Linked DNA regions of Homo sapiens. The protein of the gene in region 1 interacts with the protein of each later gene in a biochemical or structural test. Each region holds a gene or a part of one and is shown on either strand. Other genes may lie near its edges.

Region 1 (3,920 bases):
GAACGTTCTGGGTACCTGGAAAAGCATGGGTAAAGTCTCTCTGGCTGGAGGGTGGCGAGTCAGGAGAAGGAAGCAGCACACGATGAGGCTAATGGGACAGGAGGGGCCAGACTGTGCAAGGGATAGGAGGCATGTTGGGGATTCTGGGCTTTATATTGAGCCGCTGCTATTTCCAGCAGGGAGGGCTGTGATCAGGTTTGGGTTGTGTGGAGAATAGCGGAGGAATACACAGAGGGGAGGCCCAGTTTTTCCTGTGGGAGCCTTGGAAGGTGAGAAAAGAGTGGCTGGTCATTTCCAACTCTAAGCCCTGGTGTTCCTTTCATACTACCCCAGGAGTGTTCTTTTCTTATCCTTTCTTTTCCCTCCCTCCCTCTCTCTCTTTCTCTCTTTTCTTTTATTTTCTTTCTCTCTCTCTTTCTTTCTTCCTTCCTTCCTTTCTCTGAGTCTCACTCTTGTTGCCCAGGCTGGAGTGCAATGGCGTGATCTCGGCTCACTGCAACCTCTGCCTCCCGGGTTCAAGCAATTCTTCTGCCTCAGCCTCCCGAGTAGCTGGGATTACAAGCGTGCGCCATCACGCCCAGCTAATTATTGTATTTTTAGTAGAGATGGGGTTTCACCATGTTGCCCAGGCTGGACTCAAACTCCTGACCTCAGGTGATCCACCCCCTCGGCCTCCCAAAGTGCTGGGATTACAGGCATGAGCCACTGCGCCCAGCCCCCAGTAGTGTTCTAATTCGTGGTCCTATTCCCATTCCCATTCTCAGGAACCTCTCCTCCTGCTACACTAACAGGAATAAGACCAGGAAAAGAAGGAGCTGGTGGTGGGGGTGGGGTGGGGGGGTTGGAGAACAACAACAGTTTTTTCTTCTGTATGTTCTCTTTCCCTTTCCACTCACATTCATCTCCTCTCACCTCCATAGATTCCCTCTTCCTCAAGCACCATCTCACACGCATAGAACTGAAAGAGAAAAGGAAATTGATTAGTAACTACCTTCTTCTCTGTTCTCTCCATTTCTCTGGAGTTCCTCTGTGGTCACTGATGAGGACAATAATTGCCGAACCCAGTGAAAGACAAGAGAACCCAGACTCTTAAGATCTAGAAAGAACCATTAGAATCATTCAGCCCAGCACTTCAGTTCTTTCTCATCCATTTAATTTATGTTTGAGTAAATTGCTTCTTATCTCCCTGAGAGAATGGAAGAGGTTTACAAAGGAGAAGGAGTTCAGCTGTCTTCAAAAGGTAAGTTGTACAGACAGAGATGAGAGCAATGGCATGAAGTGCTCTGGAAATTGTGGAGGAGCAGATGGGAGGAAAAGATCTGTACAAGGGAGAGTGAGTTCTGTTTAGGACATGCCCACGGGACCTTGGGAGACACAGACAAGGACTTGGGATTAAGTAGCATATATGCTGTATTTAAAGTGGATGATGTGGCTGGGTGCACTGGCTCACTCCTATAATCCCAGAACTTTGGAAGGCCGAGGCAGGTGAATCGCTTGAGCCCAGAAGTTCTAGACCAGTCTGGGCAACATAGTGACACCCCATCTCTACAAAACAATGCAAAAATTAGCTGGGCATGGTGGTGTGTGCCTGTAGTCCAGTTACTCAGGAGGCTGAGGTGGGAGGATCACTTGAGCCCAGGAGGTCAAGGCTGCACTGAGCTGAGATTGTGCCACTGCACTCCAGCCTGGGCAACAGAGTGAGGCCCTGTCTCAAATAAATAAATAAAGTAGATGGTCTGTCCAAGAGAAAAGAACACGCAGAGGAGAGCTAAGGACAGGACTCTAGGGAACACAAGATGAAAGGGGGCCAGAGTACAGGACCTGGCAGGGAAGACTGAGAAAGAATACTCAGAGAAGCAGGGGCAGGAGAAAACAGCAACAGTCAAGGCAGGAAAGGTGAGAGTTGCAAGGAAGGGTGGGCAACAGTGTCAAATGCCAGGGAAGTTAAGTAGGATTAACATTAAATAGACACCAGTGGATTTGACAACGGAGACCTGAGGGAGACTAGATGAAACGATGAAGGTGGAGATGAGGAAGCAGAAGCAGTGACAATAGAACATTCTTCACAGAAGCCTGGCCCTGAAAGAAGGGGGAGCTCTGAAAGGGAAAAGAGATGAAATGGGAGACATTGTTTAGAAGGCATAGACATGGGTGAAGGCAGAAGAGAAAGTCTACCTGGTAAAGCAAGATAATGGAGAAGGAAAGCAGAAATGGGGCCAAGAACTGGCATGGAACAGCTCATCTTAGGAGGGAAAAGGCCACGATCTCTTCCTCCTTTGAGGTAAGTGGGGAAAGGGTGAATATTTTAAAGTAATGAGAAAGAATGCTGAGGGCACTCACATCTGATAATGAGTTGACATTATTAACAGCTAATGTTGTAAGCCCTTAAAATGGTTTAGGCATTGTTCTTAGTGTTTTACAGGAATCACTTGTCTTCATCTTCATACTAGCTCTGTGAGATGTAGATCAATGCTACGTGCTCCTTATTTTACTGTTACACAGAAGAATCCTATTCCTCCCTCACTCATTTCTGCCAGGAAAACTGAAATCTTCAGGCCTGCTTTTAACTTTTAATGCTAAGTAATGGAATTCCAGAGCCAGGTCTGAAAACTGCCAATCTTCATAATTAACAAAGGAGTCTCAAAGAAGAGAGAGAGATGCCTCCTAATATAAAATTAGGTCAAAGAATTTGATTAGATAAGGTGTTAAGTGGAGAACACTCATAAAAATAACTATTTTGTTTTTCTGTGTAATAGAGAGGCTTGTAGGATTATTTTAACTTGTAGGATTATTCCCTGTTAATACAAATCTGTCCTTGGCCAGGCGCAGTGGCTCATGCCTGTAATCCTAGCACTCTGGGAGGCAGAGGTGGGCAGATTGCCTGAGCTCAGGAATTTGAGACCAGCTTGGGCAATATGGCAAAACCCCACCTCTTTTAAAAATATAAAAAATTAGCCACGCACGGTGGTGCACATCTGTAGTCCCAGCTACTCGGGAAGCTGAGGCAGGAGAATTGCTTGAACCTGGGAGGCGGAGGTTGCAGTGAGTCGAGATTGCGGCACTGCACTCCAGTCTGGGTGACAGAGCAATGCACTGTCTCCAAAAACAAAACAAAACAAAACAAAACAAAACAAGACAAGACAAAACACCAAAGCTGTCCTTGGAAGCATAATTTGAAAAGAAAAAAAAAAAAAAGGTTTGTAAGAGTCCAAGAACTAGAAATTATTGCCATGACTCCTTTAGTAACATTCAAAAGTACCTATAATTCTGAGTGGTTGTCCTACTCAATAATTTCTTGCCCTGGTAATAATACTTCACGTTTGTATTCCTAAGCATATTATCCTAAGATAAATATTTGTAAGATTGTGCTATCAATGTTCAGGTGACATTCAAAGGAAGGTCACTGGCTCTTTCCTCTTATTCCTTTTACAGAAGGAGAAAACAATATAAGCCTAGGGTCCCACTTGATTTCTTATTTCAACAGAGACTCAAAGTCATCTCACTTAAATTAAAAGATAAGTACTATTATCAACTCTATCTTCCAGATGAGAAAACCGAGACACGGAGCAGCTCAGTACCTAACCCAAGACCACACAGGTAATAAGGCCTCAAGGGTGGATTTTATCCAGACAGCCTGGTTTCAGAGGCTTCAGTCCTTAGTTACTGCCTCTATTTTCTCTAGAATTTTCTTAGAAAGATTGAAAAGGAATAAATCCCTGTTCTTCCTAGTCTAGCTTCTACCTTCTGTAAGTATGCATGCACTACTTGCTGTAGCTTTAGAGGCCTATGGTTGGCAAGGTAAAGGCCTGGAACGTCATTCCTCCCAATCACTGGGATTGAGGATGCACGTAGCTGATGTGGAGGTGAGAGGGGAGCTCAATGGAATCAAGAAATGGACAGACTATGATGGACCTCCAAAT
Region 2 (3,920 bases), on another chromosome or scaffold:
AATGGGGAAGGCCAAGAATAGAAGCCAGATTTTAAATGCCCAGTTCACAGATATATCTTTTAGAAAGTGCTGCATTATTCCCCATACTCTGCTCACTCCAGGAAGAATTCTGAGTTTTAATTACACTATTCCAGATAAGTTTTAGCCATAGTGAATTTTTAGAAGAGATAAAGAGAGATGCTATAAATTCTAGTTACTTCACTATTTTAACTTTTCTCCTTGTTTTCCAGAGGCCATATAACATATCTCAGTATTTGGTAACATTAAATGGATTTCACTGATATAATCAAATTTCTAAACATGAAGCCGGGAAATCATGTCACATGAGGAATGGTTGAAACAACCATGAGTACTGAACCTGAAGAAGCAAGGACTACTGGGTAGACTCTACACCTGTCTTGAAAGATACAGGGAAGCAAATTTCAGCTTAACGTAAGGAAGCACTTTCCAATAACGAAGGTTGTTCAAAAACAAACTGAGCTGTTTCAAGAGCAACGGGCATCCTGTCACAGGAATATGTGGAGCTGGGTTTTGCAATAAGTTAAATTCTGGATGAAAGCTTGCCCTGGATCAGTGGTTCTTGGACTTTGGGGTTTCAAGGACCAGTAACACTGAAAAAATGCATCAGGTCCCTAAAGTATTGCTATCTTTTTATTACCTAAGGTCATAAAAAAAGGTACAGCTCATTTTAGTACCAAAGAAGAAGAGAAGAGTGAGGACAAAATCCTACAATAAAAGATAACCTTTCAAATTAAATAAATTTAGCTTTAGGAAAAAAAATCTCTCTACATTTGTCTTTTTTTTTCCTCAGTTTACCATCAAGCAGTGGAAACTCTGCTGGGGACTAGTGTGTGAACACCACTGCATGAGGTGACCCTGAATGATGCTGGTATGATTCATTGTTAGCCCTCCCCTTCCTGCCTATCCATTCCACCCTTTTTAATTTTCTTCATTCCTTCTGGGTAAAGGTATTTATACTTAAAATCATTTTTCCCCCATACTTACCCAACACAGGTTTTAAGAAATTCTTTTCGTTTGTCAGGGTCCTGAATGTTCAAATGCTCTCGATAATGAGATAGCTACAAAAAGCAGAAAAAGGCTTTGAGGTATTTTGTCTCCTTAGATGAGGGAGATAGCTGATTAACTGAACTTCCCATGCTTTAAAAAAACAAATTCTTCATTTCTGGGTATAGATGGTTATTGGAGGCGGGTGGGGGGATAGGCAAAGAGTGACTAAGTATCATTAGTAGGTTTATCTATAACTGCACTGTACGATACAATAGCCACTAGCTACAACTGTTTCTTTAAATTTAAATTAATTAATGTAAAAATTCACCTCCTTAGTTAACACTAACCACTTTTAAAGAACTCAACAGCTACATGTGACTAGGAGCTACTATATTGGACAACACAAATATGGAAAATTTTTTTTTTTTTTTTTTTGAGACGAAGTCTCACTCTTGTTGCCCAGGCTGGAGTGCAATGGCACAATCTCAGCTCATTGCAACCTCTGCCTCCCAGGTTCAAGCGATTCTCCTGCCTCAGCCTCCCAAGTAGCTGGGATTACAGGTGCCCACCACCATGCCTGGCTAATTTTTGTACTTTTAGTAGAGGCAGGGTTTCACTATGATGGCCAGGCTGGTCTCGAACTCCAGACCTCAGGTGACCTGCCCAACTTGGTCTCCCAGTGTGCTGGGATTACAGGCGTGAGCCACCACGCCCGGCCCAAATATGGAATATTTCTATCATTGTAGAAAGTTCTATTGGCCAGTGCTGACCTATAATGAAGCACTGAGTAGATAGAGTACCAAGCTTTACCTTTAAGTTTCACTTTAGCCTCAGTATTTAACCAAAAATGAATATTTTGCTTCAGCTTTAGATTTTGAAAAGTCCAAGAGCTAAATACCTATTTCAGTGTTATTTTTGGCATCCTTGACCATGTACATGATCAATGGTAGTATGATCATGTAAATATCTAACAATTAACATCAGTAATATAAATAGGGCATGTCATTCTGACTCACTGTTCATAAATATTCTCAGATTGAGCCAACAGATGTATACAAAAATGTAAATGTATATAAAAATGTAAATGTAAAAATGTAAATAACATAAGACAGAATAACAGAAATTACATATCATAATCCAATCTTCGTAAAATAGTTCATATAAAATAGTTGGTATACAATCATTCCTAATATTAAAGAAAGTAACCTTTAAGAGCTATAGTTAATTTTTTGTTATTCAATTCCATTTCATCCTTAGGTCTTTCAAGAAAAGTTCTACATGGGAAACCTTCATATTCTGTGGGCATACACTAAAAGTGTACTATCAGCTTTGCCACTTCCAAAGTTTACAAGGTTGAAAAACTCAAAATCTATATACAACAACATGCATGATAAATCATCTTCAATTCGAACATAATGAGTATAAAGAAAATAAAGTTTTAGATAAAAATGAGTTACCCAAAACACATTTATTCTCACTAATGAAAATCAAAACAAAAAACTTTATAAGAATGCTGTAAGAAGAAAAATCCTTATAGTTTTGAACTTACAGAGATTTAAAAATATAAACAAACAGCTTTTCAAATGATTACTACAGGCTGCCAATCATTTTTAGTTGATTAAGAAAATGGATTTTTCAGATTCTCTCATGCTTTGAATATTAAGTACAAGTTCCTTTCAGAAAACATGTTACTGAGCCAGGTGAGGTGGTTCACATCTGTAATCCCAGAACTTTGGGAGGCCAAGGTGGGAGGATAGCTTGAGGCTAGGAGTTCAAGACCAGCCTGGCAAACAAAGTGAGACCCCCGTCTCTACAAAAAGATTTTTAAAAATTAGTCAGGTGTGGTCGTGTGCACCTGTAGTCCCAGCTACTTGGGAGCCTAAGGCTTGAGCCAGGAATTGAGAGTCTGCAGTAAACTATATGATCACGCACCACTGTACTCCAGCCTGTCTCGAAAAAAAAAAACCATGTTTCTGAAAAGCATTTTCAGTATTATATATATAATTATGCTGTTCAAAGGTTAACAATATTTAATGTGCCAACTGAATGTCTGTATGGATATCACAAATGTGTTGTACAATAACTAAAAAAGCAATCCTGCCATCGACAGTGCTGAGAAATTCTTTGAGACAAGGTCTCATTCTTTCACCCAGACATGACCTCCCAGACTTAAGCGATTCTCCTACCTCAGCTTCCCAGGTAGCTGGGACTACAGGCATGCGCCACCATGCTTTGCTAATTTTTTAAATTTTTTTTTAGAGATGGGATCTCACTATGTTGCCCAGGCTGTTCTCTAACTCCTGGACTCTAGTGTTCCTCCCACCTCAGCCTCCCAAGTGCTGGCATTACAGGCATAAGCTACCGTGCTTGGCTGGAAATTCTTATTCCTGCCAAGTTTTTTTTTTTTTTTTTTAACATGAATTGCTGAAGTTTTAATAATACAACTGAGTTTTTGGTAAAATTTCAGATTTATTCTTGTATTCCAGGAGTTCATTCCATGATTGTGAAAATCTGCCAAAATTTAATCTTAACACCTGGCCATTGAATTCTCAGCCAAAACGTGTATTGGGTGTATCATCAACTTGACCTATCTTCCTTCTTGACCTATATCTGGTTTCTTATCCTCTTAGCCTTCAACATTTTCTTTGTGAGAAGCCAAAACCCCAAAACTCCTAACAACCAGGACCTGAAAACAACCGAAAAACAAATTACAAATTGACCAGGCCAATTTTCACATGTTTATTTTTTAAAATTTATTCATAAGCCCAACCAAAAGAGCATATAAAAAGAAAGAATACATCATTTGGATTAAGTTTTCAGGTTTTCCAGGTGCCTCTCTCTTCTGTATATAATCAATATCAAAGGAAATAGTTCAATCAGTCTGGGATCTTGGAGGCGGGGGTTTGGCTTAG

What was found.
Region 2: the proteins of VPS33B (region 1) and VIPAS39 form a complex in vitro, tested with the Homo sapiens proteins (one study listed by BioGRID).

Annotation. Positions count from the first base shown.
Region 1 is NC_000015.10:91,008,889-91,012,808, forward strand, and holds part of VPS33B (vacuolar protein sorting-associated protein 33B), read right to left. Parts: exon of another isoform or gene 3,546-3,920; intron 2,282-3,545; exon of another isoform or gene 1,666-2,281; intron 959-1,665; coding exon 913-958; exon of another isoform or gene 903-912; coding exon of another isoform or gene 897-902; intron 89-896; coding exon of another isoform or gene 16-88; intron 1-15. UniProt on the Homo sapiens protein: May play a role in vesicle-mediated protein trafficking to lysosomal compartments and in membrane docking/fusion reactions of late endosomes/lysosomes.
Region 2 is NC_000014.9:77,436,803-77,440,722, forward strand, and holds part of VIPAS39 (spermatogenesis-defective protein 39 homolog), read right to left. Parts: intron 1,080-3,920; coding exon 1,006-1,079; intron 1-1,005.